Homo sapiens: one gene and its partners. The protein of the gene in region 4 interacts with the protein of the main gene of each other region in a pairwise test. Each region holds a gene or a part of one and is shown on either strand. Other genes may lie near its edges.

Region 1 (7,028 bases), on a different chromosome or scaffold from region 4:
TTTCATGAACCTGGGAGTCACTAGAAGAGCTCCCCCTTTGGGTGAGCAGAGGTTTTTGCACCCATCAAGGGTTTAATGTCAGAGACCAGAACCAGGGAAAGGAATGGTTTCATTCTCTCTGAGTCGTTATCAAGGTAGGGACAAAAAAAGAAAACCACACAGCGCTGAGGGAAAAAAGATTTTTTTTTATTAATCTTTCTCTTTAAAAAAAGTTGATTTTTTTTGTTTTTGTTTTTTGTTTTTTTTAGGTAAACCTCTTTCTGCTTCCCCTCCGTCACTCTGCCCTACCTCCTCTTAAAAATATAAAAATGTCCAACCCCGGATAACTAGAGTACAATAAATAAACAGTAAACACAAAAACATACTTTATTTGTTTCTTCTTTATACAAAATAAGGAAACTAGAAGCGTTCAACTTCCAAAAAAGTATAATATTGTACATCCTGACGGCCCAGCCTCCAGGCCCTGGGCAGGGAGGGTGGTCTGTGGGTCTGAGCCCAGCAATCCTGGCGCCCCACCCAGGGGGAGAGCAGGATGTGTGCGTGTTCGAGTCCGGCCTGCTCCCTCGGGCTCAACATAAACGTCAAAGTAAGGAAGAGCGGGAGCTGGACCCGGCTGGCCACTTCCTGACCCACAGCCCTATTCCTAGAGAAGCTGACCTTGAGCCTCAAGATTGGCCACCAGGGAGCGCCAGCGTGCAGGTGGCTCGGTCTCCCTCTCGGTGGCTCCCGGTTCACGCGAGTTCCTCGCTCGCTCTCCGTCTTCTCCCTCTGGCTGACGCTGTCTCTCCATCTCCTCCTCATCTTGCCCCCTTTCCTCTCCCTCTCTTTCAATCTCTCTCCTTTTCTTATCATCTTTTTTTTTAAAGACGGGGAAAGCACAGCGAGAAATAAGATTACAAAATGCCACTCGGATTGCAGAGAGAGGGAAAAACACCGTCTCCGCCCCTTGGCCTCACCCTCTCTCAGTCCAAAGAGGTGGCGGTGGCTGGGTGGGTGGGTGGGGGCCCGGGGAAAGTCTAGAGCGTGCTCGAAATCTCTTGACCCTCCGGAGTATTGACTTTGGTCCCAAGAAATTGCTCGCGGTTGCTGGGAGAGTACTGGCGGTGGGCTGAGGCTCCTGGAGAGCCCGCGGGGTGGAGATGGGGGTCGGCCCCCCCTCGGCGCCCAGCCGAGGAGCAGCTGCCAGTTGAGTGCGGACCCGAGAGAGAACCCCCGAGGGACACCCACGTCTCCCACCGCGTCTGCGTCGGGCGTTTTGGTTTCAGGAGGCTGCTTCGGGGCGGGGCCCCCGGGGGCCGAGCGCGGGGGGCGGCCCGGCGGCCTTACCACACGGCGGCTTCGTTGAGCTCGGGGTTGGGATGCGACAGGGGTCCGCTGTAGCCGCTGGTGCCGCTCATTGGGAAGGGCGGGCTGGGCCCGCCGCTGAATACCTCGCCGGGCATGGGGTGCAGCGTGCCCGGCAGGCCTGGCTCGGGGCTCGGTGTGTCCGGGTGCGAGATCATGTCGGTGAACCTGGGGTTGTCCGCGGCGTGCGGGCCGGCGAGCGGCGGTTCCAGCGCTCCCAGCGGCGTCGAGCCGGGGCCAGAGGCCGCCAGGAAGCTGGAGTCGGCCGGGGACTGCGCCTGCGAAGGCGGGCCGTGCGCGAAGAAGTCGTAGTTGCTTCCCGGCGCGTAGTAGTCGCCTTGGTAGTCTGCGGAGGGGGAGCGGGAAGGAGACAGGGCGCGGTGAGAGAAGGCGAAGTAGGCGGGGGACCCGGGACCCGGGGAGGGGACCCGGGCGGGCGAGAGAGGGGAGCGCGCGACACCGACCCAAGGTTAGAGAGACCTGCGGAGGCCGGCGCCCCTTGAGACGGTGGACGTCGCAGGCTCACGGGGAGGGTTGGGGAGAGAGACAATGAGAGATCTCGAAAGGGCAAGAGACTCAGACTGCCAGAGACCACACACAGAGACGGGAGAGACTCCGAGACCGTGGGGGACACACGCGGCAAAAACTCGGAGACTTCAGTCACAGGTTCCCTGACACCTAGAGATGGAGAGAGACAGAGGCGGCCAGAGACGCAGAGACAGACAATGATTCCTAAGTGTCTTAGGGTCGGTGAGAGACACAGAGATGCGGGACAGCGAGAGACAGACGGAGAGATCGGCAGAGGGGCAGAGAGAAAGGCGGAAAAGAGACCCAGAGACGCGGAGTCCGCGGCTGAGACCCGAAAGCCCGAGACATCGGAGGGTCGCGGAGGAGTCGAGGAGACGCAGAGAGAGGAAAGACGGCCGCGGTTAGAGACACGCGTGGAAACCCCCGGGGGCGGCAGCGAGGGAGTCAGGAGTGAGCCCGAAGATGGAGAGAAGTCGATGCGCCCAGAGAACGCAAGACGGTGGATCAGAGATGAGTCCCAGGAACCTCCAGAGAAGCGGAGGCTGACAGGCCCGGGGAGAGGAACCGGGCAGGGACAAACCAGCGGACAGAGCAGAGCGCGAAATGGTTGAGACCGGGAAGCGACCTGGCCGGGGGAAACTGGATCCGGGCCGCGGCAGGAGCGACTGGTGGGTTGGGCCGGGCGGGGCGGCCTTGGCGCCCTAAACTCGGTCCCTGCGCCCTACCAACCCAGTCCAAGTCCTTCGCCTCGCCAAGTACGGCCGCCGCGTCGATCCCGGTGAGACCATTTGTACCGGCCTAGCCTAGCCTGAGAAAGAGAAAACTGAGCTCCAGCGACTTGGGAGAGGGGGAGGAGGACACGAAGATTCTCTGGGTCATGGCCAGAGCTCCGCGGGCTCCTTGGGGTAGAAGCTCGGTCCTCCAGCCTTGCCCCGGGTTGGTTTTGCCAGCACCCCCAGGTTCTGAAGCATCTGAGGACATTGAGATCTTTTGAGAAGCTGGTGATAGCTATGGGCTCTCTCTCAAGGAAAATGCAAGGATGAGAATTTTGCCCATAAATTCAGGAGGTGTAGGGACTCCGGATTGCAAACCCATTCTGCCTCAACAAATCTGTATCAACTCTCTGACCGCCCCACATAGCCCCTTTTCCAGAACCTTCGGGATATCCTGCCTTCCCCCACCAGGTGGGGCCCTGAAGGACTGACGTGGGGGACGTCACGAAAGGACCACCTTGTACCAGGCACCCGCTTTGTACGGCGGGAAAACCAGCGAGTCCAGAAGCCTGAGTCTCTTCTGCAAATCCACTCCCCCTGCTGAGTCCTGGGATCTCAGTCAAGGGGCGAATTCCTGATGCCCCCTGCCACCCTCTTCCCTCTCCAAACCCTGAAATCTGTCCAAATGGGGGGTGTCTGGAGGCGTGGCTTGGAGGCAGTTTAAGCAACAGCTAAAACGGTTGCCAATTACTTTTTAAAACCATTAATTTAATTCTCCCCGAAAGTGAAGGGGAAGATGGGGAGCGGCAAATTTGGAGCCCCAAAGGGACAGGGATGGGAGACGGCCGCGGCCCGCGGCGAGCCGGAAAACCAGCGAAGGCCGCTGCCCCCGCGCCGTGCGCGCCGCCTCCGCCCATATGGCGGCCGGGCCGGAGGTAATTGGAACAAACGCCGTCTGAAAAGGGCACAAAAGCCGCAGCTGGGGCTTTGTCCGCGCTCCCACGGGGAGCCGCCGGCCCCGCCGCCCGGCCCCTTTCTCGCCCGCTGCCGGTCGCCACCGCCGGGATCTCCCAGCGCGGATTAGGCGGGGCTGCCTCGCTGGGGGCTGGGGAGTCTTCCCCACCATTACGGGGAACGAGGGGCCCCCAGTATCCAGCTCCCCACCTCATCCAGCGCGCAGGGAGAGGAGGCGGTGGGATAGGTCGGGGCGGGGGCGAAGTGGTCCTCGGGGAAACCTTGGTTAATTATCCAGGCGGGGAAAAATTCCGGGCCGGTACCGCCCCCACTACCTCGCTGCTCCGGGCCCAGATTTTGTAGGGAAAGAGGCAAATTTAGGTGGAGAGAGTCGGTGAGTGGAGACTCCGGAAGACACGCCCACCATCCGGGCTCTCCAGGGTTGGGGGTCTGTCCGGGGTTGGGGGTCTGTCCAGGGTTGGGGGGCTGTCCAGGGTTGGGCGGCTGGGGCGCTCCAGCCTGAGCCCTGCCACTGCCTGGGGTCTCTGCCCTGAAAAGCACAGCCTGGCATTTTGCCCACAATTTCTAGGGGCCCCGGTCCGGTCTCAAGGTCTAATCCCCCCTCAGGCTTCCGGATGTGCTGAGGTTAGTGATGGGGTTATCTTCCCTTCCCTTCTGCGTCTACCTGGGTGCCTAGCTCCTGCCTTGCTAACACTGCCACTGAACCCACTTTCTAAGAGAAATTGCCTCTTCCTAACCTGCGTTACAACTCAGAAGTGCAGATGCCTCTCAGACATAGACAGTCCTGGGGTCTCTCCAAATTCAGAAGCTTCAGAATAGAAGAGGAGAGGTGCTTTCTTGAGCCCTCAGCCCTGGGAAGAACAGGACAGTGAGCTTGGTGAGCTCAAGCAATGCGGCTCAGGGTAAGGAGCTGAAAAAATCGGATAGGGGGAGTTGGGATGGCTCACCAATCCAGTGTGAGGGAAGTGAGAGGAGGAAAAGCTGAGGTGGCAAGGGGACAGCTCACCCCAGGCCCAAGCCTGGTACCACCATCTGAAGCCCTTTGTAAACTGGGGCTCCTCGCTCTCTGCAGCCCCAAAGACGGTGGAAATCTGGGGTTGGCCCAACACTTGTGCCCCCAGTCTGTAGGAACCCCAGGGGTCTCGGGGCTGGAGGGTGGACTACAGTCCTGCCCAGAGCAACTGCCGGCATTTGGGCTAACACTGCCAGATGCTGTGCGCACACACCCCGCCACATGGAACAGGAGTTGCTGCCTTCGATGCTAGTGAGCAGGCGGCTTGGAATGAATCCAGACCCCCATCCCCTCCCCTCACACTACCCTCCAGCGCTCGGAATCCACCTCATGCCAAGTACACCAGGCACAGGGCGGCAGGAAGGCTGTGCGTCTGTCCGTGGGGGCCGCATGCATGTGGATTTGCCAGTACTGGCCTCAGTGTGACTGGTGGGAGTGTGCGCGTCTGTGGAGTTGTGTCTCCGTGAGTGTACCTGTGTGTGAGAGGGTGGAATTTACCTATACGTGATCGTGCGATCGTGTCTAGACGTGTGTCCCTGGAGTCTCTGAACGCAAGTGTGAGTGCACCTTGTGCCCTGCGTGGGTGAATGTGTCACTGTATCTCGTGTGTGCTTCTGTGTGCATCACTGTATGGGTGAGACCATGTATCTGATTTTGTGTCCAGGACATGTGGGTGAGTGTACATGTGTCTGTGATCGTGTGTCCAGCGAGTGGGCGATGTTCTGGAGCGGCGGAAAGCGTGCTGGCCGGGACCCTTCGCCCTCAGCTCCCGGAATAGGACAGGTGCGGAACAGCGAATCCCGGGGCGCCCCTTACCTCCGTAGTAGGTGTACGGGGTGGACCCCAACATCTCAGACTCGTCCAAGCGGCCGCCCAGCGGACGCATGCGCCGCGGACTCCGGAAGAAGGCGTGCCTCCGGGCGCCTAGGGCGCTCAGCTGTTTCATCCGGCGTTCTTTGGACCGTCGGTTCTGAAACCACACCTGGGACAGAGGAGGGGGCTGTGAACCCAGGATCAGGAGTGTCCTCTCCCCCCCTCTTCTCCCTTCCCTGACTGGGCTGCCCCTGCTGGGTCCTTGCGCCTCTTCCGCACCAGGACTCCCCCGAGGCGGGGCCGGGCCGGATTAGGCCGGGAGGGGTGGAGAGAGGCTTCGGCGAACCAGCCAAGGGTGAAGGATTTCGCGGACCCGTGGGGCGACTCATAAAGACTTGGGCTTCCTGGTCCCCGGCTCGCCCGCGGCCTGACGGCTCTATAAAGGCCTCCCTCCCGGCACGGCTCTCGCCTCGGCCCCTCGGCTCCGGAGCCAGCCTCTGGCCGTTTGTCTGCCCGCGCTTCGGCGCAGGGAGGGAGGGGGCATCGCCTGTTTCTCTGCTCGAAAGGTGGAGGTAAAGAGGGATCCCGGACCCCAGAGAGGCTTACAACCTTCCATAAGCAAGGCGGGGGGCGGAATTCAGAGAGGTAAAGTGACCCGCCCCCAAATCGCAATACCAGGAGGACAGCAGGGCTAGATGGAATCTTTCGGTTCACAGTCCCCGACCTCGGGCAAGTGCCCCACTCGGGCGCACGGTCTGCTCCCAGACCAGAACCAGGCGCGCTCGTAGCCAAGGAAGCTTGGCGGGAGACTCCTCCGAGGCTCCCGGCTCCCAGGCCAGCGGGGCTAAGGAGCTGTGCCCGCCCCGGGCCGCACCTGGATGACGCGCATGTTGAGGCCGGTCTCCTGCGCCAGCTGCTCGCGGATGTGGCGCGTGGGCTTGGGCGTGGCGGCGAAGGCAGCCTTGAGCGTCTCCAGCTGCTTGGCCTTGATGGTGGTGCGGGGGCCGCGCCGCTTGGTGCCCGAGTTCTGCTCCTCGTTCTCGTTGTTGGCCGTCTCCTTGTCCGACGAGGTCGAGTTGTCCGTCTCTTTGGGGTCGTCCTGCAGTGCGTCCTGGAGGTCCGGGGACAAACTGCGGTCCGTACAGGATGACACTGCGGGCGGACGGATCGGGAAGGGGACAGCGGCGTCAGCGACGGCCAGACGCCTCTTCAGTCCAGTGGCGGGTTCCCGCCGGCCCAAGCTACGGCCTGCCCAGGCTACGGCCAGCCCCGCTGGATTCCCTCCCAAACCTGCGACAGCCCCTCCCCCAGGGACCCGGTGCCCGCCCACTCTCTCCAGGCGGGGCTGGGCCTTTGGAGGGGCGCTCTTAAGCCCTCTCCGCGCGTCTCAGCTAGTACCTGGGTAAGGGTAGGGGGACGCGTACCCTCTGGAGAACTCCCACTTTCAAGGAGAGGGGACAAGGAGGGCACAGATTCCCTTGGGGCTTGGATCTTCCTCTCTCTTCCCTCCTCTCTCCAGACCTCAATTAATGTCCTTCCAGTGCATCAAGAAATTACCTGGAGCTCAAGTGACACATAAGGGGGAATTGTGCGCTTCCAAATTAGGGGAGGAGGGCAACTTGGAAAAGGCTCCTGAATTGGAG
Region 2 (7,028 bases), on a different chromosome or scaffold from region 4:
AAGTGGCAAGTTACAGAGCACCGACCATGTGCCTGTCACTGTTCTAAGGGCTTTACAGAGAAAGCCTTGTTTATCTTATTAAATGGATTCTGAGACACAATATTTCCTACATTAGCATTTCTGAAACTGCACTATATCTTATAACCAGTGGTGTGCTAGAGTGTAGTTATTAGTGATTTTTCTTTCTTAGTGATATAGAAAGAATTGTGCATCTTACAATCAGTGAAGTCTTAGATCTGATGAAATATGGGTGATCCTCACAGCTCCATGAGGTAACTGTTCCTCAAGAAATGCAGCCCTGTGTCGGAGATGAGAGCTCTGACCCACACAGACATTAACCTACTGGCTCAAGGTCTCTCAACTGGGAGCATGTGGGCCTGGGATATGAACCTGGTCAATATGGCCCCGGAATTTTCACTCCAAATTCCTGCACGAAAGGACCTCTCTCTGAGATTATACCAAAATCACAGTAACTCCACTGAGGTGCCATTGTTCTTCCCATTTCACCAAGGAGAAAACTAATCCTCGAAGAAGTAGCTTGTCTCAGGCCGCAAAGCCAGAGTGGCAGGGCTTGGAATGGAACCTAAGTTTCCCTCTGTCTTCATGGCCCACGTTCTTGTCATTTTCAATGATTCTGGGTGGGGATCTTTGGTAGAATGCAAAATGTCAGCATCGCAGAGTTAAGATGAAGGCTAGAAATATCTACTTTGATACCAGAGTGAACTCATTTCATATTCTCAATGGGCACAGGTTCTGTTGTGGTCACTGTGCCGCATAGCAGCAATAGTGTTTTATGCTTTGTGGTGCTTTCAACTTTCCGAATGCTTTCACATACAGATTGTACTTCTTGAACACAGGGTGGGAGGTTGTTATGGATCTTGGTTAGCTGATGGAGCCAGTAGCCAAACTTTCTATATTGCCATTCATCTTGAATCATCTTTTCAATCATATATATCTTTTCCATGTGGGGCGGTGAGTAGGAAGGGGAAGGGAAAATATCTCCCAATGTGCATTAATTCAAAATAATAAAGCAGGATAAAGAAAATGTGGTACATATACACCATGGAATACTATGCAGCCATAAAAAGAAATGAGATCATGTCCTCTGTGGGACACGGATGGAGCTGGAAGCCATCATCCTCAGCAAACTAACATAGGAATAGAAAATCAAACACTGCATGTTCTCACTCGTAAGTGGGAGTTGAACAATGAGAACACATGGACACAGGGAGGGGAACAACACACACTGGAAATTAAAAATTAGAAAAACACACACACAAATAATAAAGCAGAGGGTGAAAGAAAAAAATACATACCACTGGTATTTGGACTGATTTCTGGGCCGGTCCATTTGAAAGCTGGTTTTCGGCCTCTTTCCTCTGTAACATGAACTTTCTTGATAAGATCCAGGCTACTCAGAACATTAGCTATATCATACAACCTCCTAATTTTTGCTGGGAAAAAAAGTATATATACCACTTAATGGAATAATGAAAAGATCAAAGAATTTTCCTTCAGAAGGACTTCATGTATATTCTAAGAGCTGTCTTAACCATCAATGTCAGACAGAGAAACATCTGCCTCCTTTTAAGTTCTTCTGGTGATACAACTTTAATTAAGATAAAAAAGTTTTAAATATTTAAAAGACTCAATTACTGCTAGTACTCAATGTTGAAATGACAATAGCATACGTTGACAAAGGAAAAACGACTTGATGAGATCACCCTATCTGAAACTATGTTACAGACTGTTTCAAAAATAAAGTCACCATTCCTGGGTATCTTCTAATGAGGATTCAGAAGAATTTTATGAGCAGAGAAGTAAAAGTATCTGTGATAAATGTCTTGCTTTTCTGCTTGTAATAGCTTATAACAAAATTTATTTACTATGGCAGCATGGAAAATTCTGTACTCCATCAACATGTGTAATTTTTTAATACTGTCTATGTAACATGCAAAACATAGATCTGTGAACTTGACAAACCTCACATATCTTAAAGAGTTTTGTTACAAAAAGTCTGTTTTTTACTGCCATCTTGATAGTACAAATTACAAATCGAGTCTCCTTCCTAGCCATATCAGAAGGTTCTGAATTCCCTGGGGATTCAGTAACTTACACCTCTGCAGTTCCTGGAATAGTTTTCAAGGCTATGACTAACCAGTGAAACAAAGATGAAAACTATCCGGTGACTCACAAAAGGCAAGTAACCCCTCAGTAGTATCAGGACGTGTTTTCTGAAATTGCAGATCTCCCGATCTCCCGAGCCAAGTGCTCCTCCCCATCCGCTGAGCACTTCTTTCCACACCCTTCCTGCAAAGTCTGGTGTAATGGTGAGGGCATAGCTCTTTTGTTAGGAATCCAATCTACAGTCCCTTCCCAATTTTGAGCAGGTAATCTAGCTAAAACCATTCTTTCAAAATGGCAGACTACCTGTGCTGCAGGTCACTTCTGGGGACAATTTTATGAGTCATTTATAAACCCTCTGTAATCAGCATCAGTGGAAGGAGACCAGGGTGCAGACCCACTTTACAATTTACTCTCATTTAGAGCTCACACAGAACAGATTCTTCTAGTGTTTCCTTTTTTTTGAGACAGAGTCTTGCTCTGTCCCCCAGGCTGGAGTGCAGTGGCGCGATCTCGGCTCACTGCAAGCGCCGCCTCCCAGGTTCACGCCATTCTCCTGCCTCAGCCTCCTGAGTAACTGGGACTACAGGTGCACGCCACCACGCCCGGCTAATTTTTTTGTATTTTTAGTAGAGACGGGGTTTCACTGTGTTAGCCAGGTTGGTCTGGATCTCCTGACCTCATGATCCGCCCTCCTCGGCCTCCCAAAGTGCTGAGATTACAGGCTTCAGCCACCGCGCCTGGCCGTGTTTACTTTTGAGAACAATGTTACAATATCAAATGAAGCAATGTGTCAAATAAGAGTAGTGATACTTGGCCAGGCGCAGTGGCTCAGGCCTGTAATTTTGGGAGGCCTCCCAAAATTTGGGAGGCCGAGGTGGGTGGATCACGAGGTCAAGAGATCGAGATCCTCCTGGCCAACATGGTGAAACCCCGTCTCCACTAAAAATATAAAAATTAGCCGGGTGTGGTGGCGCGCAACTGTAATCCCAGCTACTCCGGAGACTGAGGCAGGAGAATTGCTGGAACCCGGGAGGCAGATGTTGCAGTGAGCCTAGATCTCGCCACTGCACTCCAGCCTAGCAAAAGAGCTAGACTCCGTCTAAAAAAAAAAAAAAAAAAAAAGAGTAGTGATACTTATGTATCATAACAAGTTAGCTAAATCAATATTATCATGGCTTCTGGGGAGAAGATATAAAAACATAATTAGAGAAGATCTGTTTATGCACCTATGTTTCCTAATTTGGAAATGAGTTTACGACTGAGATTTTATTGTTTAAGAATAGGTTCAAAAATCCATGGCAGTCATGACACTTACTTTTAAACTTGCTTTTATCCAAATCTTCCACATGGTCCTCCCCAATTAAAATCTTGGCAGCAACTTCTAGGCTTACTATCTGAGGCGTTGACACCAAAAACAGCATCACAAATTTCTGGCTCATTACCCTTAAAGACTTGTCTTTGCGGCTGTTTACAGAAGCTTTAGAGAAGGATGAGGATTAGAGAATTAAAATTCATAAAGGGACAAGTGACTTCTAAAGTAACAAGGCTAAAAATACTACCACCTGATCATACAGCTGACAACTGTGGCATCTGAACATTAAAGGCAGCAGTAGCTTTAGAGCTGTGTTCTCCACAGAACCTTTTCCTTAGACAGAGGACAAATGCCATGCCGCCTGGAGTTTTCACTACCATCTCTCACCTGCCCGAAATTCCACTCCAGGGAGTTCCACAAAACACATGTCTGGGTGTCCATTTGGGCCAGTGTTTGATTTGATGATATGATCCTCTATACTGTAACTCTTAATAAAGTCAAACTCTTGCTCATATTCTTTCTTTTTGATCATCATAATCTGCTCGGCGTACTTATTCTCCTCCCCGATGCTCTTCAAGGTGCCAAGGGTTTTGTTGAGATTGTGTCGCCCGTGCCAAGTGTACCTGTTTTTGGCGAGGCGGCTCACCATATGTAAACTCTCTAGGACGTTCACGATATCGTAAATGCGTCGACGTTCAACATCTACAAAGAATGTGCAATTGTGTGTTACAGATTTTTGTAACGTGTTTAGAATTGAATAGCTTTTTCTTCCATTGGTTTATTAGTCAGTAGGTCTTGGATAATATCACTTTCCTAACTGTAAGTGAACATACTCAACAAATACTGTGAAGGTGAGAAAGACATGTGCTTGCTTTCCAAGGGCACAAATCATATGAATTAGAAAGGCAACATTTAATGAGGGCCTAAGTTGTGCTACACAGCTTTAGGAAGTTTTCACCCTAAACTTGTGAAGTAGGTATTATGATCTGCACTTTAAAAAGGATGAGAAAGGCCGGGTGCGGTGGCTCACACCTGTAATCCCAGCACCTTGGGAGGCCGAGGAGGGCGGATCACGAGGTCAGGAGATGGAGACCATCCTGGCTAACATGGTGAAACCCAGTCTCTACTAAAAATACAAAAAAATTAGCCGGGTGTGGTGGCGGGTGCCTGTAGTCCCAGCTACTCAGGAGGCTGAGGCAGGAGAATGGTGTGAACCCGGGAGGCGGAGCTTGCAGTGAGCCTAGATCGCGCCACAGCACTCCAGCCTGGGCGAAAGAGCGAGACTCCGTCTCAAAAACAAACAAACAAACAAAAAAAAAAAACGATGAGAAAACAGAGGCTCAGACCAGCTAAGTAGCTCACCCCAAAAGAGCTAGCAAGTAGCAAACCAAGTCTTTAAAACTCTACATCTCACACCTTCCAACCGCTTCCAATACAAACACGTACACACACGCCCATCTGTAATGATCATAAGATAGAAACAAAATGCTGAGATTTCAGAAAAGTACAAAAACCATGATGTAGTTTTTAAAAACTTACATAAAAATAAAATATGCCTTTTTGGGTCTAATTTTGCTTACTTTCTAGCTATCATTAACAATATGATATTAGTAATTCTGTGACTCTATCTATTTAAATTGGGTTTTCAATATTCTGTAATGTTAGAATTCTCTTCGTTCAAGAAACTTAATTTCAATTTAAATATTTGATGAGATCAGCCTTTCTGGAAAAGTGATCAATAAAACACTATTTTAATAAGGGTGCATCCTACCGACCTCTTGCTGTCCCTGGAACCTGCCAGATATGCACTTGCTTTGTACCGGCTGTTCCTTCTGCCTGGAACCCTTCTCCCTGATGTCCTTACAGCTCCCTACCTTGCTTCTTTCAAGTCCTTGCCCAGATGTCACCTTCTCAACGAAGCCTGATCTGACCACTTATGGCAAAGCACCTCCCCAGCACTCCTGATCCCTTGATCCTGATCTACAATTTATTTTTTCCACTATGCATGTTACCTTCTAGCATGTATTATCCTTACTTACTTCCTATATCCTTTACTCAGTATCTATTGCCCCACTAGAATATAGGTTCTAAGAGAGAAGAGATTTTGCCCTTTTTGTTTACGGATGTATCCCAGGCTCCTACAACATTGCCTGACACATAGTAGTAGAAGATTAATAGATATTTGCTGAATATCCTACCCAGCTACCATTAAGCATATATGAAAAGTAGATGAATCTAAACGGTATATTCTTAAAATGTGAAATAAAGTTGATATTTACAAACATGTATTAGAAGGGCAACTTTTCTTCACGGGGTGATTGCTTTGTATTAAAATGTATTATCTTGCACAGCACATCACTTCACAGGTTTAAATTAAGATACCCACATGACTCCAAAGGTACCCCAAATTCACCACGGGCCCCTTTTTAGCTCCAAATAGATTCAGGTCTTTGAACAGAGTAAAAAGGGGCAGGAGGAATAACTTGTGCCCAACACAAAACATTCAGAAAACTAGTCCTCAGAATAGTGCTGAAGGTCCAGGAGTGCACAGGTCCTGTTCCCACTCACAGAAGCTGATCCTCAGCGTCAACTAGGAAGATAACCATTTATCAGCCTGATTCTTCAAGAACAGCAAGGGAGAGCAATGAAGCAAAAGTTCACAGTTGTAACTTTGTGAAACAAGTCATGAGACAATATTGCCTTTCTTTAAAGCTTCAGAGACAACTGTAGTCAGAAGCAACCTCCATTGTGACTTTTCTGCCTCCAAGATTTGCTGAAATTTGCAACTACTTACCTTCATTCTTATATTAGAAGAGGGCTTTAGAGATAGAAAATTTCCATGCCGGCTTATTTGTGTCATTTACAAACACTGGCTAGATGAGCGGGGGTCTGAAGGAGTTAAGTCCATAAAGCCACTTTAATTATTAATTCTTTCAGTGAGTTCTTTGCATACTTACTAAGTTCCTCTGCCACTTCGTCAAGGCAGATGTCATTATTCACAGCAGGGTTGGGATAATTAGGATATCGTGCTAAGAACTTATGACACAATAATCCTAAACTTTTCTCTTTTCGACTTGGTTGGGATTTCTCAAATTCATCTCCAGATAAGTGTTCCTACAAAGGAAAAGGTAAACAATGTCTTATTCTAAAATAAAGTCTGACAGATTTATTAGGGGCATCTGTGCTCGATGACTGACACCAACTTACACACGCTTAGCTTCAACAGCTGCAAAGTCTGGATGGGAGAAAAGGTTAGGGGGGCCAGTACAAAATGCTTGGCAAACCTGAAAGGAAAGCCTGAAACGAAAATAACGCAAAGGTTCAGAATTCCCAGAGCTATATTTCTTGGGGTCCAAACCTTTCTGGTGCTCCGAAGGAAGTTAATAACAGCCTTCGGGTGGTGATGCTTTAAATTGCTGGCACTTCTCTAATAGCTACAACCTCCCCCCTCCCCCCAACAAATTCCCCAGCCTCCAACCAGTCCTCTGAAAACCTACGTGTATACAGTCTTTGGCCTCAGGTAATCCACTTCTGTTGTCAAACAAACCCCTTTTCTGATCTCTGTTGCGGATCTCAGGGCTCACAGCAC
Region 3 (6,581 bases), on a different chromosome or scaffold from region 4:
AAATTTCCTCCATCAGCATAGGAATCGGATGACCTGGGAAAGGGAGTATTGTTAGTTTTCCTAGAGCCAGCTTCAATAGGGATTGGGGTTATTTAAAAATACAGGAGAAAAATAAGGAGGCGCTCAAAAACAAAACACAAAACCCACATTGATGGGGGTATGTCAAAGGGGGGAACAGGAGATAACGGAAAGAGTTCCCAATGGTCAAAGCTGGGATAATTTGAGCAACAAAATAAAGTAGTATTAAATTGTAACCCAAAGTATAAAATATTCATGTGTCCACACTGATAAACATAAATGATCGAACTAATAAAGCGAAAGGGACAACTGTCCCTCGCAGAAGAATTTCAATTAATTATGTAGACCACTCCCAAGAAAGTACACTACAACTCCCCATTCCTTTAGTGTGGGCTGTGCATAGTGATTTCCTTCCAAAGAGCACAGTATGAAATGGGGGAAAAGAGTAACTTTACAATGGAGAAACCTGACAAACACTCCTTCAGCCAGGTGATCAGGTCGTCAACATCAACATCAATAACAGTCATAACCTTTTATTTCATGTCATAAAATGGTGACACTTACTTGTGTTAAAAAAATTTAATAACAATGTAATCATTATATCTCTGCAATCAGCTGAAGTTCTAAGAAAAAATGACAATGTTGAAAGTTGTATCATCATTATTATAAACTTTCATGTTCAGTATATGTAAACTCCAAAGCCAATTTCAAAAGATATTTTTGTGAAATACCATTCTTTAAAAAAAAGGATATTATATATAATTGTATGAATGTTAAATGTTTTACAGTACTGATTTGCTACATTTTATGTATGCTGTAAAACAAATACCATTTTAAAGTATATTGGAATTCGTAACTAAAGTAATAAATAAATGCTTGAAATATACCCAGTAGAAACTTATTTTTATTATCCAATCCTTTTGATAAGAAATGCCTCTAGTGTTATGTACAAACTTGATCTTCTTTGAAATGTGTTGTCCACTGCTTTTCTGTTTCTGTCACAGTAGCTATAAACAGCTGTTTAAGGATATCCTTATCTAAATTTCTGCCTGCAAACAAAACAAAATATGACGTGATTACATTATGCTTATTAAAATGACACAGTTCACCTATCAATTCCAGTTCATTAAATGCTTTATGGTGTTTAAAAATTTACAAAAAGAATAGTAATTGAGTGATTCCATCTTTAACTTTCCAGGTCAGTACATCAAAGTCACATTGGTCCTTGGATTAACCACTTTTCTAAAATTGAAGAAGAACAAAAGTCCTAACAAGCTTTTACGAACGTTGTAATGTGACAAAGATGAAACATTGACCACAAGCTTATTTAGTTTTAAAAGAGGACCTGAATGGTTAATCTGTTTAAGTGGCACATGATATCCCTTTCAAATATATTTTTCACTTTGTTTCAAAACTGTGAATCCTTTGAGACTTACCAATGAGGACCAATCGATTTGTTCTCTCAGTGTCATCCTTCCAGCTCACTGGAGTCTCCTCCAGATCATAGAGCTCATGGACACCCTGGACAATCACTTGTTGTGATTTGTCTTTGATTGACACCAATCCCTGCTCAAAGGAGAATTGACTGAACATTAATCAGCCTCAGTTCAAACTTAAAAGCAGAAATAGAGCATCAATGTTAATGGATTAATTACTGATATTCACTTAAAAAATACAAACTCTTAAGCTGAGAAAATTACTTAATTCCAATTATTTGTGAATTACAAGAAGTTTCTTAATGTTTTTAATTTTCAAAAAAGGTTTCTGTGTATTGATTTTTTTTTGAACAATCCCCTTTTCTAATGATAAAGTTAATACATATATTAGGATGGTTTTTCAGTGTTATTTATCACAACCAAAACCTGAAACAAAATGATGAAATATGTATCATATCCTATTGATTAAAGATTTTATATAATGTTTCACAGTTTTAGTGGGAAAAGTTGAGAAGTTAAAGGAGTTTTGTTATATTAAATAATTTGTTTTAGAAATGGGTTGCAATCAATGAACAATGTTGAAATAAAGAAAAACTATTATATTTATCTGGATATGAGCTCAATTTATCTGAATATGAGCTCATTGTGTATTGATTTGCAGAAATGAGAAACGAATTATCTGATAAACTGGCTCCTATGGGGATGAAATTAATTTATTTGAAATAATATTCTTAATTTACCAAAAACTTTGTGCACACTTGTGAACACACAAGAGTAGACACTCAACTGACTGGTTAAGCATACACTTTAGAATCACTGCTTCCTAGAAGAAATACCTTTCATGACTTAAATACCCAAATATCAAGTAATGTGAGTGGGTTTCTAAATACAGAACAAGAATTCTTCTAGTCCTTTGTAACTTTGTTTAGAGTACAACAAATGTTTAGTGTCTGCTAAATGCATCAGGAAGCATAATGTTCAGCAGAAGTGAGATTTGCAACATTATTTCTCTGTACTTGGGAACAGAGAGCAGAAGGTAACATTTCAAAGCACACAGGTTTGTTCTAGCTGCAACCCTAAAGAAAGTTGTGCAAATAAATCAAGCCTTATGCAGTGATTTCCAAAGCTCCTTTTCAGTCATGAAAATAATAAAGAAAAATGAAAGTAGACAAAGATGATTTGTACTAAAACCAGTGTTTCTGTTTAAAACCAAATATAGTTTTTATAACAGCCAAGAAAAGGACTTTGTCCAAAAGTCTGCAACAGTAAACTGTACCTTCAGCCTTATGACCTCCATGCAGTGATTGTCCTTGTTTCTCACATTCTTTTCCCACAGAAGATTCTGTATCAAGTGACATATTTTAATAAGACCAACCATCGCTAATAGCAACAACTATGTAACAAAACCATTGATAAATCATTAATCAGTTAAAAATTGCATTCACCTGAATAAACATATTAAGATGTTCTTCCTTTGCATTTCCTGGTACTTCAAATGTGATTGTAACAATACTCTGTAAATCAAGGGAAATAATAATAATTCTTTATAGTAATATCAATGTTTTTTAAATCACAAATTTTAAGATGAAAGGAACATATTCATGGAATTTTACATTGCTTAAACCATATATATTACGTATTATACTTTCCTCAGCATATGTGCTGTTTTTTTGGAATTAGCAACTCCATTTCCTACATTCTGCACAGGTACCAATGGATTTAGTATTTACACAAACTACTACCTTGTATTTTAAAAAACTCACTCAGAAACCCTGATGAAAGGGTCCTCATTATTTAATTCATTCTTTCGTGGATTCTCAGGAATAAGAATATATGTAACACATACAATGTACTCACTACACAGGGCCAGGTACTTTTGCCTGAGTCACCTCATTGTATCTTTTGACTTACTCTTCACAACAATCCTGGGGAGTGAAGATAACTATTTCATTTTATAAATTGGGGAAAATAAGGGTCAAAAAAATAAGCTACCCAGAGCCAGGAATAAAACTCAAAACCAAAGTAAATTTGTTCTCTTAAAAAAAAAATACAAAAGAAAGGCTTGGCTTATCTTTAACTGAATAAGCATGTGCCAAGAGGAGAAGAGTTCTTAGCGATGAGAATGATAGGATAATGCCCTCTTTGGCTTTAGTAAGGGTGACATCATCATGTATTGAATATTAACTTTAGGATTTATTTTTCTTCTTTATCTTGATAAATCTCTCACTGTCTACCCTAAAGAAACAGAAGCTTAACATTTCCTCTAACAGGTCACCTAATTAAAACCCAAACCTCCCTTTGCCAATATAACCCCAAATTTCAAACTCAGAGATGAAAATACACAAGGGCTAAGCATAACATTATAAAAACATACACCCCACCTTGGAAAATAGAGGCTCAAAAGCCAAGCTCAAAATGAATTTAAAAAGGTAGAAAATAATATACTAAAGCACATCTTTGCATAACTTCCTAGAACTGCGTATCTGGCCTAGCAATTTTACTCACCATTACATAATCATACAGGCTTACAGCAGAAAATACAAAAAGACCAAAAACTATTTTATAATCCAAACTCAAGAGAATCGCTAAAGTATTAAAGACCAATTTAGGCAGAAACATATGAGACATTTCTTTCTTTCCATAGGTTACTGGGGAACAGGTGGTGTTGGTTAACTTCTTTAGTGGTGATTTGTGAGATTTTGGTACACCCATCACCTGAGCAGTATACACTGCACCCAATTTTTGTCTTTTATTCCTCATCCCCTTCCCACCCTTTCTCCCTGAGTCCCCAAAGTTTATTGTGTCATTCTTATGCCTTTGCATCCTCATAGCTTAGCTCCCACTTATGAGTGAGAACATAGCGATGTTTGGTTTTCCATTCCTGAGTTCTTTCACTTAGAATAATAGTCTCCAATCTTATCCAGGTCACTGTGAATGCCATTAATTCACTCCTTTTTATGGCTGAGGAGTATTCCATTGTATGTATATATATCACAGTTACTTTATCCACGCATTGATTGATGGGCATTTGGGTTGGTTCCACGTTTTTGCAATTGCGAATTGTGCTGCTATAAACATGCGTGTGCACGTATCTTTTTTGTATAATGACTTCTTTTCCTCTGGGTGGATATCTAGTAGTGGGATTGCTGGACCAAATGGTAGTTCTACTTTTAGTTCTTTAAGGAATCTCCACACTGTTTTCCATAGTGGTTGTACTAGTTTACATTCCCACCAGCAGTGTAGAAGTGTTCCGTGTTCACCACATCCATGCCAACATCTACTATTTTTTTGATTTTTTTATTATGGCCATTCTTGCAGAAGTAAGGTGGTATCGCACTGTGGTTTTGATTTGCATTTCCCTGATCATTAGTGATGTTGAGCATTTTTCCATATGTTTATTGGCCATTTGTATATCTTCTTTTAAGAATTGTCTATTCATGTCCTTAGCCCACTTTTTGATGGGACTGCTTTTCTTGCTGATTTGTTGGAGTTCATTGTAGATTCTGGATATTTGTTCTTTTTCAGATGTATATATTATGAAAGATTTTCTCCTTCTCTGTGGGTTGTCTGTTTACTCTGCTGACTTTTCCTTTTGCTCTGCAAAAGTTCTTTAGTTTAATTAAGTCCCAGCTATTTATCTTTGTTTTTATTGCATTTGCTTTTGGGTTCATGAAATCCTTGCCTAAGCCAATGTCTAGAATGATTTTTCCAATGGTATCTTTTAGAATTTTTATAGTTTCAGGTCTTAGATTTAAGTCTTTAATTTATCTTGGGTTGATTTTTGTATACAGTGAGAGAGGAGGATCCAGTTTCATTCTCCTACATGTGGCTAGCCAATTATCCCAGCACCATTTGTTGAAAAGGGTATCCTTTTTCCACTTTACGTTTTTGTTTGCTTTGTTGAAGATCAGTTGGCTGTAAGTATTTGGGTTTATTTCTGGGTTCTCTATTCTGTTCCATTGGTCCATGTGCCTATTTTTATAACCGTACCATGCTGTTTTGGTGACTATGGCCTTATAGTATAAGTTTGAAATCAGGTAATGTGATGCCTTCAGATTTGTTCTTTTTGCTTAGTCTTGCTTTGGCTACGCACATGTGTATGTTAAACCATCCCTGCATCCCTGGTATGAAACCCCTTGATCATGGTGGATTATCTTTTTGATATGTTGTTGGAATCAGTTAGCTAGAATTTTCTTAAGGATTTTAGCATCTATGTTCAAGGATATTGGTCTGTAGTTTTCTTCTTTGGTTATGTCCTTTCCTGGTTTTGGTATTAGGGTGATACTGGCTTCATAGAATGATTTAGGGAGGATTCCTTCTTTCTCTCTCTTGTGGAATAGTGTCTTTAAGACTGGTACCAATTCTTCTTTGAATATCTGGTGGAATTCTGTTGTGAATCCGTCTAGTCCTGGACATTTTTTTGTTGGTAATTTTTTAATTACCATTTCAATCTCCCTGCTTGTTACTGGTCTGTTCAGGGTAATTCTTCCTGATTTAAGCTAGGAGGGTTGTATCTTTCCAGGAATTTATCCATCTATTTTAGGTTTTCTAGTTTATGCATGTAAAGGTGTTCATGGTAGCCTTGAATATCTTTTGTATTTCTGTGGTGTCAGTTGTAATATCTCCCGTTTCATTTCTTATTGAGCTTATTTGGATTTTCTCTCTTTTCTTGGCTAATCTTGCTAACGGTCTATCAATTTTATTTATCTTTTCAAAGAACCAGCTTTTTGTTTCATTTATCTTTTGGATTTTTTTGTTGTTTTGTTTCAATTTCATTTAATTCCGCTCTGATCTTCTTTCTTCTGCTGGGTTTGTTCTTGTTTCTCTAGTTCTTTGAGATGTGACCTTAGATTGTCTGTGCTCTTTCCAACTTTTTGATGTAGGCATTTAGGGCTATGAACTTTCCTCTTAGCACCACCTTTGCTGTATCCCAGAGGTTGATAGGTTGTGTCACTATTGTCATTCAGTTTGAGGAATTTTTACATTTCCATCTTGATTTCATCTTTGACCCAAAGATCATCCAGGAGCAGGTTATTCCATGTATCTGCATGGTTTTGAAGGTTCCTTTTGGAGTTGATTTCCAGTTTTATTCCACTGTGGTCTGAGAAAGTGCTTGATATAATTTTA
Region 4 (7,028 bases):
TTCTACCGTCTGCTTCTATGATATCAACTTTTTTTTTTTTTTAAAGATTCACATGAGTGAAATCATGTAGTATTTATCTTTCTGTGCCTGGCTTATTTCACTTAACATGATGTCCCCCAGGTCCACCTGTGTTGTCATGAATGACAAGATTTCATTCTTTTTTATGGCTATATAGTATTCCATTATATATATATATATATATATATATGCGTGTGTGTATATATATACACATATATAAACACATATATACACATAATATACATATATGTACACATATACACACACACACACACACACACACACACACACACATTATCCATTCATCTGTTGTTGGACACTTAGGTTGATTCCATATCTTGGCTGTTGTGAATAGTGCTGCATTAAACAGGGGAGATAATGGATTGCTAGATCATGTGGTAGTTCTATTTTTATTTTTTTCACCTGGCCATTCTTAAGTTTATTTTGATGACACCCGGTGACAGTTCCCTGTACCTAGAAGAAGGTGTTGGGACTCTTGATGTTGGAGTGTGGCTTGTGCTGAAGACACAGGACCTGGTAGGGCAGCAGGAACTTGATCTTGGAATTGTGGAACTGCTTGACTGTCGGCCGGTGGCAGTACCAGAAGCGGGACTTGGCACAACTTGCTTAGGTGCAGAGATTTGCTGGCAGTAGAGGGGCAGCATGTGGCATTTGGGGGTGGGCAGGCAGCAAATACTCTCTCAGTGTGCCCCAGGCCTTCATGGCATTCTCTCAGCACTTGCCACCACTTACAAAAAGGAAGTGCCGTCTTTCCTATTTTGAATTTTTTAAAGGAACCTGCATTCTGTTTTCCATAATGGCTGTACTAATTTACAGTCCCACCAACAGTGTGTAAGTGCTGCCTTTCTCCACATCCTCACCCGCACCAACACTCGTTTTCTTTTGTCTTTTTGATAAGAGCTGTTCTAACTGGAGCGAGGTAGTGTCTCATTGTGGTTTTGATTGGCATTTCCCTGATGATTAGTAGTGTTGAGCATTTTTTCATATACCTGTTGGCCATGGTACGTCGTCTTCTGAGAAATGTCTGTTGAGGTCTTTTTCCCTTTTGAATCAGGTTTTTTTTTTTTTTTTCTGCTGTTAAGTTCCTGATATATTCTGGATATTAACGCTTTGTCAGATGGATAGTTTGCAAATATTTTCTCCCATTCTGTAGGTTGTTTCTTCACTCTTAATTGCTTCCTTTGCTGTGCAGAAGTTTTTAGTTTGATGTCATTTCATTTGTCCATTTTTGCTTTTGTTACCAGTGCTTTTAAGGTCTTACTGAAAAAAACACTTGCTCAGCCCAGTGTTGTGAGGCATTTCTCCTGTGCTTTCTTCTAGTAGTTTCATGGTTTTGGATTTTACATTTAAGTCTTGAATCCATTTTGAGTTAATTTTTGTATGTGGGGAAAGGTAGGGGTCTGGTCTCCTGCATATGGATATCCGATTTTCCCAGCACCATTTATTAAAGAGACTGTCTTTTCCCCTGTGTGTGTTCTTGGCACCTTTGTTGAAAATCAGTTGGCTGTAGGTGCATGAATTTATTTCTGGGCTCTCTGTTCTGTTCTATTTTGTCTGTTTTTATGCCATAACATGCTGTTATGGTTACTGTTATAGCTTTGTGTAGTATGGTTTGAAGTCAGGTAATATGATACCTCCAGCTTTGTTCTTTTTGCTCACAACTGCTTTAGCCATTTGGGGTCTTTTGTGGTTCCATACGAATTTCAGGATTGTTTTTTCTGTTTCTGAAGAATGCCATTGGTGTTTTGATAGGGATTGCATTAAATCTGTAAATTGCTTTGGGTATTTTAATAATATTCTTCCAATTTGTGAATGAACACGGGATATCTTTCCATTTTTTGTGTGTCCCCTTCAACTTCTTTCATCAATGTTTTATAGTTTTCAGTGTAGAGATCTTTTGCCAGCTTGGTTTAATTTATTCCTAGGTATCTTATTTTTTTGGTAGCTATTGTAAATCGAATTGTTTTCTTGATCTCTTTTCCAATGGTTCACTGTCACGTATAGAAACGCTGTTTTTTGTACATTGATTTTTGTATCCCACAACTTTACTGAATCCGTTTATTAGTTCTGTCTGCAAACAGGGATAACTTGACTTCCTCCTTTCCAATTTGGATACCTTTTATTTCTTTCTGTTGCCCGATTGCTCTGGCTATGACCTCCAGTACTATGTTGAATAAAAACGGTCAAAGTAGGCATCTTTGTCTTGCTCCTGATCTTAGAGGAAAGGCTTTCAGCTTTTCCCATTGATTATGCTGTTAGTGATGGGTGTGTCGTGGGGAATTCCCATGAGCATCATCATTTCATCGGAAAGGGCTCGAGGACACAGTGAGGAGGGGCTGGATAGGAGAAGCATAGTGGTCATGGGAAATGAACCAATCATTGAGCACTGACTCTTCTTTTGTTGGGATTGGGTTTTTTGGGGACTGCAGCATTCTTTTATACAGCAAAATGCAAGAGCCTGGAGCTGTGCTGGATGTGGTGGGTGCCTGGCTCCAAGACCCAGCCAATCAAAACCTTCCAGAATATGGAGCCTTGGCAGAATTTCACGTGCAGCGGGTGCTGCTGCCTCTGGGCTGCTTATCGGAGGCTGAGGAGCTAGTGGTGGGCTCTGCAGCCTTTGGTGAGGAGCGGCGACTGGATGTACTTCAGGCCATTCACACAGCGAGGCAGCAGCAGAAACAGGAACACTCAGGCTCTGAGGAGGCCCAGAAGCCAAACCTGGAAGGTAGGACATTATCCCTCTGCGACCTCTGTAAAGTGGACTTGCGGGCTTGCACTGTACCTCGGGGTCTGTCGTGAAACTCCTGCGAGCTTAGAAGCAGTTCTTTGTATGAATAACTCTTGAGTCACAGAATAGGAGGCCTGTTGATTTGCTTCACAAAGTGAAGGCCAGACCCTCTGAAGTTGGCAGTGGAAGGAGAATCTCCACATGGGAAGGTGTTGCTGGGTCTTGGGACCTTGACTTGTCTTTTGAAAGTCATTTTCCCATTGGAGTCCTCTGATGAGGTCTCTTGCTTCCACCATACTGGTCTGGGTGGGATGTCCTTCCTCCTTTAAATGCTGGCCCCAATACAGACACAGCTGAGATCTGCTGGGATAGCCAAAGGAATATCAGAAACTAATTTGCAGACCCTTTCCCTGGTCGCTGAATCTTTTCCGCCCTTTTCCTTGAGTGATGATCTAGTCTAGTTGTGAATACTTCAAGGACAGAAAGTCACCATCTCTCTCTCTTTTTTTTTTTTTTTTTTTTTGTTTGAGACGGAGTCTCGCTCTGTCGCCCAAGCGGGAATGCAGTGATGCGATCTCCGCTCACTGCAAGCTGCACCTCTCAGGTTCACGCCATTCTCCTGCCTCAGCCTCCTGAGTAGCTGGGACTACAGGTGCCCGCCACCACACCTGGCTAATTTTTGTATTTTTAGTAGAGACGGGGTTTCACCGTGTTAGCCAGGATGGTCTCAATCTCCTGACCTCGTGATCTGGCTGCCTTGGCCTCCCAAAGTGCTGGGATTACTGGCATGAGCCACTGCGCCTGGCCTGAAAGGTTCTGAAAGGTTTTAAAAAACTTTTACAAAGATGCATTCAATATAGTAAATAATATATAGTCAAAATAAGTAATAAACACGAGGAAAACAATTTATATTCATGAGATTTGCAAGAGTATGTGCAGTTAAGGAATGAAGGCTTTAGCCAATACCTAATACCCTTTTACTAAACTCTTTTTTTTTTTTTTTTGAGACGGAGTTTTGCTCTTGTTGCCCAAGCTGGAGTGCAATGGCACGATCTTGGCTCACTGCAGCCTCCACCTCCCAGATTCAAGTGATTCTCGTGCCTCAGGCTCCCAAGTAGCTGGGACTACAGGCGCACACCACCACGCCTGGCTAATTTTTGTATTTTTAGTAGAGACGGGGTTTCACCATGTTAGCCAGGATGGTCTCGATCTCCTGACCTTGTGATCCACCTGCCTCAGCCTCCCAAAGTGCTGGGATTACAGGCATGAGCCACTGCGCCTGGCCTGCTCAGGTCTTAGAAGCAAGCACAGAGGTCGGGGTCAGGGAAGCTGATTCCCATGACATCCCTGAAGCTGTGCTCTGTCTCCCTGGCCAGGCTCTGTCTCCCACAAGTTCCTGTCACTACCGATGTTGGTTCGCCAGCTTTGGGACTCTGCGGTGAGCCACTTCTTTTCTCTGCCCTTCAAAAAGAGTCTCCTGGCTGCCTTGATCCTCTGTCTCCTGGTGGTGAGATTTGATCCAGGTAAGAGGTGGAGACTCTCCCCTGTCCTTCCTGGGAAGGGGTTGTTGCCAGGGCTGGGCCTGTGGGAGTGGGTGTTTGTCAGAGTCCTACTGGGGAGGGGAGTCTCTCCTATGACATTTCCCCTGAGTCTGTTCCACAAGGAGGAATTGCTAGACTGGGCATGAGCCAGCCCCACCCATAAGGAGAGGCCAGTCCTGGAGTCTATGAGAGCAGCCAGGAGAAAGTCCACTTGGCCCTGCTGACTCCTGAACATGGACTGAGTCATAGTCCTCCACTTTTTCTAGGGCTGAACTCTGACTAGAACCTCAGAATTTAAAAAAACTTCCTCTTGGCCAGGCACGGTGGCTCACGCCTGTAATCCCAGCACTTTGGGAGGCCAAGGCAGGCAGATCACAAGGTCAGGAAATCGAGACCAGCCTGGCCAACATGGTAAAGCCCCATCTCTACTAAAGATACAAAAAAAATTAGCCAGGTGTAGTGGCACATGCCTGTAGTCCCAGCTACTTGGGAGGTTGAGGCAGGAGAATAGCTTGAACCCGGGAGGCGGAGGTTGCAGTGAGCCAAGATCGCACTGCTGCACTCCAGCCTGGGCAATAGAGCGAGACTCTGTCTCAAAACAAAAAACAAAAAACAAAAAAACTTCCGCTCATCAGAATATCTACAAAAGTGTTAATTCAAGTATTAATGTCTCATGAAGTGTTAATTCAAAGCAAGTTGTAAATGAAAAACTCATACATTTTAGAAAATGTGGAAAATAGGCCGGACATGGTGGCTCACACCTGTAATCCCAGCACTATGGGAGGCCAAGGAGGGTGGATCACCTGAGGTCAGGAGTTCGAGAACAGCCTGGCCAATATGGTGAAACCCCGTCTCTACTAAAAATACAAAAATTAGCCAGGTGTGGTGGTGCGTGCCTGTAATCCCAGCAACTGGGGAGGGTGAGGCAGGGAGCATTGCTTGAACCCAGGAGGCGGAGGTTGCAGTGAGCCAAGATTGCACTGTTGCCCTCTGGCCTGGGCTACAAGAGCGAAACTCTGTCTCAAAAAAGAAAAAAAAATGTGGAAAATAGAGAAAAGTATAAAGAAGGGCATAGAAATCTGCTACTCTGCTGTGCTTTCAGTCTTTTTCTATGGATATAGAGATTGTAGGCAGTTACATGTCACACATATGCTTTCAAGCATGGCCTTAAATCGCTAACTATTCCAGTTCACAGGAATGCCCCTAAGTAATTTAACAACCCCTATTATTGAACATTTGGGTGATTATTCTGTTTTCTGCCTCGCTGTGAAGAAGGAATGAGCTCCCTAAGTGATATTTGGGAACAACCCCAGTTATTTCCTGAGGATTGACCCCTCAGGTGCATGAAGCCAAACTTGGCACTCGCTCTTTTAGATTTTTTTGTGTTACTCAGTGTGAGTTATGTTCTAATCTCTACTCTTCTCATGAATTTAGACTTAGAATATGATTAAATAAGTTTCAAAATTTAAGAGGAAATCAGAAACCCTTATACTGGTCCCTTCAAATGGTTTGTCTATTTTGAGAAGTGCCATTTGTTAACTTAGTCTTTAGATTCTCCCTGTTTCCCCATTTCTCTTTCTCTTATTCAGTGAGCTTTTTTAAAATATTTATTTATTTATTTTTATTTTTATTTTATTTTATTTATTTAGTTTTTGATACTGGGTCTTTCTCTGTTGCCCAGGCTGGAGTGCACCGGCGTGATCTTGGCTCACTGCAACCTCTGCCTCCTAGGCTCAAGCGATCTTCTCTCCTCAGCCTCCCAAGTAACTGGGACTACAGGCATGTGCCTCCATGCCCGGCTAATTTTTTATTTTTATTTTTGAGACAGAGTCTTGCTCTGTTGCCCAGGTTGCAGTGGCGTGATCTCGGCTTACTGCAACCTCCGCCTCCTGGGTTCAAGCGATTCTCCTGCCTCAGTATCCCAAGTAGCTGGGATTACAGGCACACACCACCATGCCAGGCTACATTTTGTATTTTTAGTAGAGACGGGGTTTCGCCATGTTTGCCAGGCTGGTCTCCAACTTCTGGCCTTAAGTGATCCTCTCACCTCAGCCTCCCACAGTGCTGGGATTATAGGCACAAGCCATCATGCCTGGCCAGCGAGGTTTCCGTCACATAGCTCAGAGTTGTCCTTCTAACCCGTCTGCTGAATGCTGAGCAGGGATCCCCTGTGGACGACTCTGTTTGCTTTACAAAGAAGTCACGAGTTAGCGCTCGGAATGCTCAGTATCATCAGCGTTCATCCCTGGCCACCTCCTGACTGATACAGATTTAGAAACTCTTTATGATTCTTTATGGTTCCCGTAAGCCCTTTAGTCTCGTAAACCCTGGTCTCCTAGTGGGGATGGCATGAGGACATTTGAGCCTGCTCTTTCCAAGGCTGCTTCAGAAGGGCCTGGCCCAGTGGCCCTGACCCTCAGCAGCAGGCCCGACTCATTGGAGTGATGATGGTGGGGGAGGAGAACCTGCACCTGCAGGCTGAGGATCGCATGAGCCCCAGAGATTGAGGCTGCAGTGAGCTGAACACAGACTGCACTGTACTCTAGCCTAGGTGACAGAGCGAGACCCTGTCTCTAAAAAAAACAAAACAAAACCAACTATGTGTAATTGGTAGTGGAGTCTCCCAGGGTGGGAGATGGCAGAGTGACAGGTGAGAGGGGTGGGACGTTCACTGTAGTCTCCCTCTGCCCTGCAGCTTCCCCTTCCTCCCTGCACTTCCT

The links.
Region 1: the proteins of PEX26 (region 4) and LHX5 interact in binary tests that used the Homo sapiens proteins (3 or more experiments, as listed by UniProt).
Region 2: the proteins of PEX26 (region 4) and E2F8 interact in binary tests that used the Homo sapiens proteins (3 or more experiments, as listed by UniProt).
Region 3: the proteins of PEX26 (region 4) and ZNG1C interact in binary tests that used the Homo sapiens proteins (3 or more experiments, as listed by UniProt).

What each region holds. Positions count from the first base shown.
Region 1 is NC_000012.12:113,461,868-113,468,895, forward strand, and holds the end of LHX5 (LIM/homeobox protein Lhx5), read right to left. Parts: intron 6,538-7,028; coding exon 6,260-6,537; intron 5,555-6,259; coding exon 5,389-5,554; intron 1,691-5,388; coding exon 1,323-1,690; 3' UTR 166-1,322; downstream 1-165. UniProt on the Homo sapiens protein: Plays an essential role in the regulation of neuronal differentiation and migration during development of the central nervous system.
Region 2 is NC_000011.10:19,230,918-19,237,945, forward strand, and holds part of E2F8 (transcription factor E2F8), read right to left. Parts: coding exon 6,937-7,028; intron 6,554-6,936; coding exon 6,397-6,553; intron 4,142-6,396; coding exon 3,827-4,141; intron 3,605-3,826; coding exon 3,443-3,604; intron 1,455-3,442; coding exon 1,317-1,454; intron 1-1,316. UniProt on the Homo sapiens protein: Atypical E2F transcription factor that participates in various processes such as angiogenesis and polyploidization of specialized cells.
Region 3 is NC_000009.12:68,293,967-68,300,547, reverse strand, and holds the end of ZNG1C (zinc-regulated GTPase metalloprotein activator 1C), read right to left. Parts: intron 2,969-6,581; coding exon 2,900-2,968; intron 2,797-2,899; coding exon 2,731-2,796; intron 1,585-2,730; coding exon 1,455-1,584; intron 1,068-1,454; coding exon 961-1,067; 3' UTR 513-960; downstream 1-512.
Region 4 is NC_000022.11:18,080,969-18,087,996, forward strand, and holds part of PEX26 (peroxisome assembly protein 26), read left to right. Parts: intron 1-2,468; coding exon 2,469-2,764; intron 2,765-4,143; coding exon 4,144-4,290; intron 4,291-7,003; coding exon 7,004-7,028. UniProt on the Homo sapiens protein: Peroxisomal docking factor that anchors PEX1 and PEX6 to peroxisome membranes. PEX26 is therefore required for the formation of the PEX1-PEX6 AAA ATPase complex, a complex that mediates the extraction of the PEX5 receptor from peroxisomal membrane.